2 linked regions of the Homo sapiens genome follow. The protein of the gene in region 1 purifies or fractionates together with the protein of each later gene. This does not show direct contact. Each region holds a gene or a part of one and is shown on either strand. Other genes may lie near its edges.

Region 1 (4,021 bases):
ATTTGAGCTCATTTTTAAAAAACAGCCAAATCTGGTTTTAAGGTAATTCTCTATGCCCAGAGTCTTAATTATGTGTCAATTTCTCTGTGCAAATCTATTGATTTTGGCAGACTTACAAATTTAGCATTCAAGCAAGAAGAATATGTCAAAATTGGCTCAAATTTCCTGTGCTTCCAGATTTGTTAGAAGTTTCTTTGTTTTGTAATCATTTATTTTATTACATATTTTGCTTTTATCCATTCCTTTCCAGGGTCCCAGTACAATTAAACTGCAATCCCCAGAAGTTTCCTGTTATGTGCTCAAAAACTGAATCTAATATTTGTAGATAATGAATTCCAGCAGGATCATTCTGATAGCCCTGCACTTCTAGAAATTCTGACGTTTTGGATCTCCCTCTTTCTGGCTCCTATTCTTCTACTTCCCTTCCAAAGAAGATCCTTTGCCTCACTCATTTTCATTAAGCTAACTGGGAAACAGCATTGACTCAGGTTCTTATTTCTGAGTTTTCCCCAGAAGTAGGAAGAACAGTAGTGCAAGGAATAACATTGCATAAGAAGATTGCAGCTTTTATTTCAGGGTCTCTTTCATTTGGCATATAATGCAAGTGGCATGCTGTGTGTTTCATTTTAACTTCGTTAAGCTTGTGTTTTCACCGGGGCCTTACAAATAGTGGTCAACGGCCATTTCACAGAATGGAAGTCAGGGTTCTTGGATTCTAACCCTGGTCCTTCTCTTACAGTGCTGTAAAATTTGGGCCACTCAATTCTCTTTTGGCCTTTATTTTCCATCTGTAAAATGGGATGCCTGGAATACTAGTGTTCCATTAATGTGGCAGGGTGCAGCTGCAGAAAGATAGGGTGGTAAAGGGTGGGGAGAAAGAATGCCTTTTTTAAAAAAAATCAGTCAAAGGGGCTCTATTTTAATATACTATATATAGAAATGACACTGTAGCTTTCATCTGTGTATCAAAACCCCAATCTGGAAACTAGCATTGGCCCCTCTAGAATAAAAGATTTTAAACATCACTTCCTCCATGAAACCAGTTTCTGGTCTTCCTATTCCCCACTTGAATGTGACTCTTTCTTTCTTATGAGGTTTCAAAGACACAGAAAATTTTGTACAGAATCCCATGCATCTAATTTACCTGATGCATGGATTCTTGCCATAAACAATATTCTTGACAGCCTCAATGTCACAATCACAGACCTGAAGGAACCTAAATAATTAAGCTGATCCAGCCACTTCTATTCACAGGAATTCATGGAAGATGCTCAGAGAGAGAAAAGTAAAACTTGCTGAAATCGTTAATGTCCCTAGGGTTAAGTCACTTTATCATTAATGGAATAATGGGGAGTGCGATAAAAATAATCCTATAACTGGTATTATGGTTGACAATTTTCCCCATGGGTCTTGTGTTATAATTATGCGCCATTTGAAATCCTCTATATTAGATGTGAGCTCATTGATGGGAGGAACCCTGTTCTAGTGTGGATCTTACAACTAGTGGTCAATGGCAATGTCATAGGACTTGGAGGGAGTCTAGGTTCCTGGATTCTAATCCTGGATCTTCCATTTGATTGCATTTACTTTGATCAACTCGATTCTCTTTTGAGCTTTATTTTCCCATCCATAAAATGCAATGGTTGCAGTACTAATGTTTCATTAATGTGGCAGACGGGCAGTGGCAGAAAGATAGAGAGCTGGTGGGGAACATCTTCCTCTAACCCATACCCAGGTCTTGCACAACACACATGAGGGTAAGTGACATAAAAACAGTATCAAAAAGTAGATATCTATGACGGTTTATCAGATTAAATGAAAGGCTCAATGGCTTTTATTTTAATACAGCTAGAAACCTGACCTTAGGTCTACCAATATTTTCTCTTTCCCCATTTTCCCCTCTGCTCTCTTCTTTTCAGATGTACTTTCATTGTGTAGACTACTAACAGGACAATGCAGGGGTAGGGCCAAGGAAAAACAGAGAAATAACTAGAGGAAACGATATAGTACAGTAGAGCAGAAAGGAGTGTGGTCAAGAGAAATAGCTTCTTTCAACAACAGTCTGCAGTCCTCTTCAGTACTAAAACCAGCAAAACACACATACAACACTAGGAACGCCACTCAGAAGGCTGACACCAAATTTTTTTTTTAGAGATATGTGTAGGCCATTTGGCAAATGATGACAAGGTCTGGTGGAAAATACTCGGCTAGAAAATCAGACAGCAGGAAAGGAGGGATGAATAAAAAGACAGAAAAAGAATTATAGAAGAAAGATGAATGGAAAAAAAAAAGACAGGAGGAATTATTTTTCCTAATGAGAAATGCAACATTTTCCACCAGACAACTGTGACTCTTGGCTGAATAACTTATGTATCATGTGAATGAAAGTGCAGGGTGGAGGGGGCAGTCCAGGAAGATGTGTCTTATGTCCACTTTGTCTCTGAAGGCAATGGGTTTACTGCAGGTCTCAAGTGCACCACTGATTCACTAGACCACCCCTCAAGGAGGTAGCCATGACTGTTACATAGAGGCTGGAAAGAGTAGGAGACTGGAAGTGAGAAAACCTATTCTGGGCCAAGCTCCATTTGCTTTCCCTTCTTGATTTGTTGTAGAATCTGTGAGGCCAGTGTCATCATCTGTTAAGTGACAGGGATAGATTTTTTCATGATCTTTGAGGGCTCTTTCAAGCTATAGCATTTTTATAATTTTAATAACTACCACTTCCACCCTTGTTAGATTACATTTCTTGAACAAAATAATTACCCTTTCCTCCCTTGCTTTTACGTCACTGCCCCAAAGCAGTTAGTTGACTTGAAGGTGTTCTTTTGGAGTCTCTTCCAGCTATAAAATCTGTGACTCTAAGAAATCCACAGTTTACTTAATTCCTTAGCAATACAAAAGAATAGTCATTATATCAAATCCAGCAAGTCTTCATTTAGGTGAACCTATCCACCTTTCAAAATGTATCAAGTCTCGCCTATGAGGAAGTTGACATTTTATCAAGCATTTCCAAGAGAATTTCACAGCTACCCCTTTGGAGTTTATCAATGAGCAGATGATATTAGTAACAGAATCCATTTGATTCTGAGAGACGAGGTCTATGAAGAAAGGGAGGCAGCAGTTTATTAATTTCCATTGTTAAAGGAGGCCGGGCGCAGTGGCTCGCGCCTGTAATCCCAGCACTTTGGGAGGCCGAGGCGGGCGGATCACGAGGTCGGGAGTTCGAGACCATCCTGGCTAACACGGTGAAACCCCGTCTCTACTAAAAATACAAAAAGAAATTAGCCGGGCGTGGAGGCGGGCGCCTGTAGTCCCAGCTACTCGGGAGGCTGAGGCAGGAGAATGGCGTGAACCCGGGAGGCGGAGCTTGCAGTGAGCCGAGATGTCGCCACCACACTCCAGCCTGGGCGACAGAGTGAGACTCCGTCTCAAAAAAAAAAAAAAAAAAATGGCCAGGAAGGAATCCCTGATTAACCAAGCTGACTAACCATGGGAGAATACTTGCAAGCAATTGCTGCCCTCATCTAATTATTATTATTATTTTTTTTTTTTGAGGCGGAGTCTTGCTCTGTCGCCCAGGCTGGAGTGCGGTGGCGCCATCTCGGCTCACTGCAAGCTCCGCCTCCCGGGTTCACGCCATTCTCCTGCCTCAGCCTCCCGAGTAGCTGGGACTACAGGCGCCTGCCACCACGCCCGCCTAATTTCTTTTTGTATTTTTAGTAGAGACGGGGTTTCACCGTGTTAGCCAGGATGGTCTCGATCTCCTGACCTCGTGATACGCCCACCTCGGCCTCCCAAAGTGCTGGGATTACAGGCTTGAACCACCATGCCCAGCCTCATCTAATTAAATTTTAAGCCTCTGTGGCACTTATCACTTATACGGGCAATAGATGACTGGTAAGGAGCTGACCAGGCTTTCAGATATGGGACAATCCCAAGGAGGAACAATTGTGATTCTAATTCCTTAGCACACGGGACCTAAAATCTAGCTAGATGAACAATCTCTCAGGTTTTCTTCCTA
Region 2 (3,500 bases), on another chromosome or scaffold:
AAAGGGCTGAAATCTTCACCTACTCATTAGGAGAAACATTTCTAGCCTAGGGTTGAGAGTGCAAGCTCTGGAGCCAGAGGGACTTGAGTTCCAACCCTGACTGTGCCGCCTATCATGGGTGCCTGGGGCACGTCCTGGACCCCAGAGTCTCAGTCTTCCCATCTGTAATGTGGCTTTTTTTTTTTTGATACGGAGTCTCACTCTGTTGCCCAGGCTGGAATGCAATGGTGCGATCTCAGCTCACTGCCACCTCCGCCTCCCAGATTCAAGCAATTCTCCTGCCTCAGCCTCCTGAGTAGCTGGGATTACAGGCTCCCACCATCACACCCGGCTAATTTTTTGTATTTTTAGTAGAGACAGGGTTTCTCCATGTTGCCCAGGCTGGTCTCGAACTCCTGACCTCACGTGATCCACCCATCTCGGCCTGCCAAAGTGGTGGGATTACAGGCATGAGCCACTGTGCCCAGCCTGAAGTGGCTTTTTAATAAGAGTGTGAGAATTTAACTGAGCGAACACGTGGACGGCTCTGGGCACAGCTCCTGGCGTGCAGCAAGCATGATAAACATAGCTACTGTTCGTGTAGTAGACGGAGCAGATGGAAAGCCCTCCTTGCTCCCAGACATGGCAGTTTGAGAAAAGTGTCATTTTTTTCTCACTTTATATGCACATATCTGTACATGTGCACGCATATAGAAATAGTTGACGTTCTGTCTCTCTCTTAATGTAATAGAAATGCAATCACTGTATATCCATTGGTCTTTGTCTGCTTTTTTCCTCCCCGTAACTAGGTGTGATAGCTGGGTCTCAGGTCAGCACGCAGAGACCTCGGGCTTTGTCACAGCATCTGGTTTCCCATGTCCGGTGGCTCCATAGCTGTTTAGGCTGTTCCCAGTTTTGTGCCATTTCTGATGGTGCCATGGCAGGCACCTGTCACCTCTGCATGGGATGGCTGGCTGAAGGCTCTGTTGAGCTTCTCCTGCTTCATGGGCCAAACTGAACCATCCCTTCTCCCAGCCTTCCCACCTCCAGGGCTGTACCTAGGTTGTTTCCTCTTCCAGCACTGATTCTGGTGTGGCACAGAAAGATGAAGGGAATTCCACAGGGCCCTAAATTGAGTTAGTTGCCTGGTCCTGGCCCAGGAGTTTCTCCTTCTGGTGGTCTGGGGTGGGGGCAGGGCTGCAGCGAGTGGGGGCTGCACTGTGGTCGGCATGGGAGTCTCTGTGAAGGCCGGGACATTCCAGGTGCTCAGCAGCCCTCAGCCCTGCACAGGGTCACGGGCCCTGTGCTTTTTGCAGGGGTTGGGGAAGGAGGGATGGTTTCAGGTGACCCTTCTCAGCCTGGGTCCCCCACCCCTCCCAGACTTTCTTCCTGCCCTCAAGCCTGGGGTCAGCAGGTTCCCAGGCCGGGGCGTTTACAGAGCCACAGACCGTGGCTCAAGGAGATGAGGAGAAGACGGGAGCTGAGGCTCTGGGATGGCGTCAGAGGCTGGGCTAGGCCATCCACCTTGCTGGGTTCAAATCTGGCTTCTCCACGCACCAGCTGTGACATAAGCAGTTGTCTTCACCTCCCCAAGCCTCAGTTTCCCCTCTGTAAAAACAGGGTGGGGGTACCTTCCTCACCATCAGAGGATAGTGTAAATACCTTTAGCATATAATAAGTGCTCAATATGTGCAGTGCACTCCGATTATTAGTTGGTGTTTGGAGAACTCAGTCCTCTGGGCTTGGGGCATTGATTACACATCCCAGCCATTCCACGGAGGGGACATGGGAATGGGTGAGACAGGGCCTCTCCTCTTGCATGCTGGCGGAGGGGGCAGGCACAAATTGGCAGCTTAATTCAGCGTGACAGGTGTGCAGATGCTGCGGGAGCCAGGGCAGGGCACCATCAGAACTGCTCGGGTCAGGGTGGAGATGGGAAAGGATGGAGGGAATAGGCCATGTCACATCTGGGCTTTGAAGGTAGGAGGCGCCATGGGGAGAAGCGGAGGAAGGGTACTCCAGGCAGAGGGCCCAGCACCAGCAAAGGCCTGGGGCAGGTGTGGGTACAGGAGATCCTGAGGGTTGGGGAGTTGGGTAGGCAAGGCAAGGATGTAGGCAGGTTTCCATTCTGTGACACTGCCTCTAGGGAGGGACCGAGGGGCAGATGGAGAGGCCACTCACTGTAGTTGTCCAGGCAAGAGCCAGGCAGTGATGATGGCCTGGATGGGTCAAAGTTGGAGAGGAGAGAAGTTGGGGAGCGAGAGCTCAGGGGAAGATGGCCCGCTTCCATCTTTCCCCTGCCATTCATTCCTCAAGACCTACTGAGAACTCTCTGCACAGCCCCACCCCTAGGGCCATGACATTCACCCCTCAGCCACAGGGACTCCCCCCAGCCATTTGGGCCCAAATGACTTTGCAAGCTCAGGGCTTCTCGCTGCCTGGGGATTCAGGGCTCTTGAAGAGAACACGGACGTCCTCACCCATCCTCCTGGAGTCCCCAGCAGGGGACCCTGTGTGGTACCTGAGTTTCCTCTCTTTGGGTCTGTTTCAGGAACTGGTGCTCCTATGTGGTGACCCGCACCATCTCATGCCATGTGCAGAATGGCACCTACCTTCAGCGAGTGCTGCAGAACTGCCCCTGGCCCATGAGCTGTCCGGGGAGCAGGTAAATGAGGTGGAGAAGGAACTGATGGCATTCCAGGTGGAGGCACAGTTTGGGCAAAGGCCTGGTTGGGGGACTGCATGGGGAGTGTGGGGGAAGACTGGACCCCAGGGTGGGCGGAGCAAAGGTAGCATCAGCCGACACCATTCTCAGCCTATCCCCTGTGCTGTTGAAGCACCCTGGAGGGCTTCCTGAGGGATGGATACACCATTTGCCTGCATTCCTTTACTCAGTGAGTATTCACGCTGGGCTCAGGCCAGCCCAGCCTGCAGGGTCTTCTTGTCCAGCTGGTATCCAATCTCCAATCCCTGTGGCAAGGTGGTGGGGGGATGGAAGGGCTGAATCCCAAAATGCAGGAGAGAGCCTCCAAAGGGACCTGGAGGCAGCAGAGGATCCTGGAAGCTCTAGGTTTGTCCCCATGGGTGTCCAGGGCAGTGGGAGAGGTCATGGAGGACCCTGTCTCAGCTGGGCCACCTGGGGACTCTTTCAGCTACAGAACTGTGGTGAGACCCACATACAAGGTGATGTACAAGATAGTGACCGCCCGTGAGTGGAGGTGCTGCCCTGGGCACTCAGGAGTGAGCTGCGAGGAAGGTAGGACTGCCCGGCCGGCTCCCGGAGCCCTGCGACAGCAGGCCAGGTGCCTCCCTGCAGGTGCATGGAGCCGTGAACTATTAAGAGAGTCATGCACAGTACCATGCCTGCTGGGGCCAGCTGCACAGAGCCTGGCTCAGACACAGTCAGTGCTTGTTGTCCCCCCTGCCCCCCACGGTGACCGCTTGCCTCTTGGGAGACTCTCAGGACCCCCAGAAGAATTTTATATATGCTGCATAGCTCACATTTTAAGTCATGCTATCCT

Evidence for each region.
Region 2: the proteins of P3H2 (region 1) and EMID1 purify together in Homo sapiens (co-immunoprecipitation; one large-scale study listed by IntAct). This does not show direct contact.

The regions. Positions count from the first base shown.
Region 1 is NC_000003.12:190,110,650-190,114,670, forward strand, and holds part of P3H2 (prolyl 3-hydroxylase 2 isoform a precursor), read right to left. Parts: intron 1-4,021. UniProt on the Homo sapiens protein: Prolyl 3-hydroxylase that catalyzes the post-translational formation of 3-hydroxyproline on collagens. Contributes to proline 3-hydroxylation of collagen COL4A1 and COL1A1 in tendons, the eye sclera and in the eye lens capsule.
Region 2 is NC_000022.11:29,212,396-29,215,895, forward strand, and holds part of EMID1 (EMI domain-containing protein 1 isoform 1 precursor), read left to right. Parts: intron 1-2,530; coding exon 2,531-2,644; intron 2,645-3,131; coding exon 3,132-3,235; intron 3,236-3,500.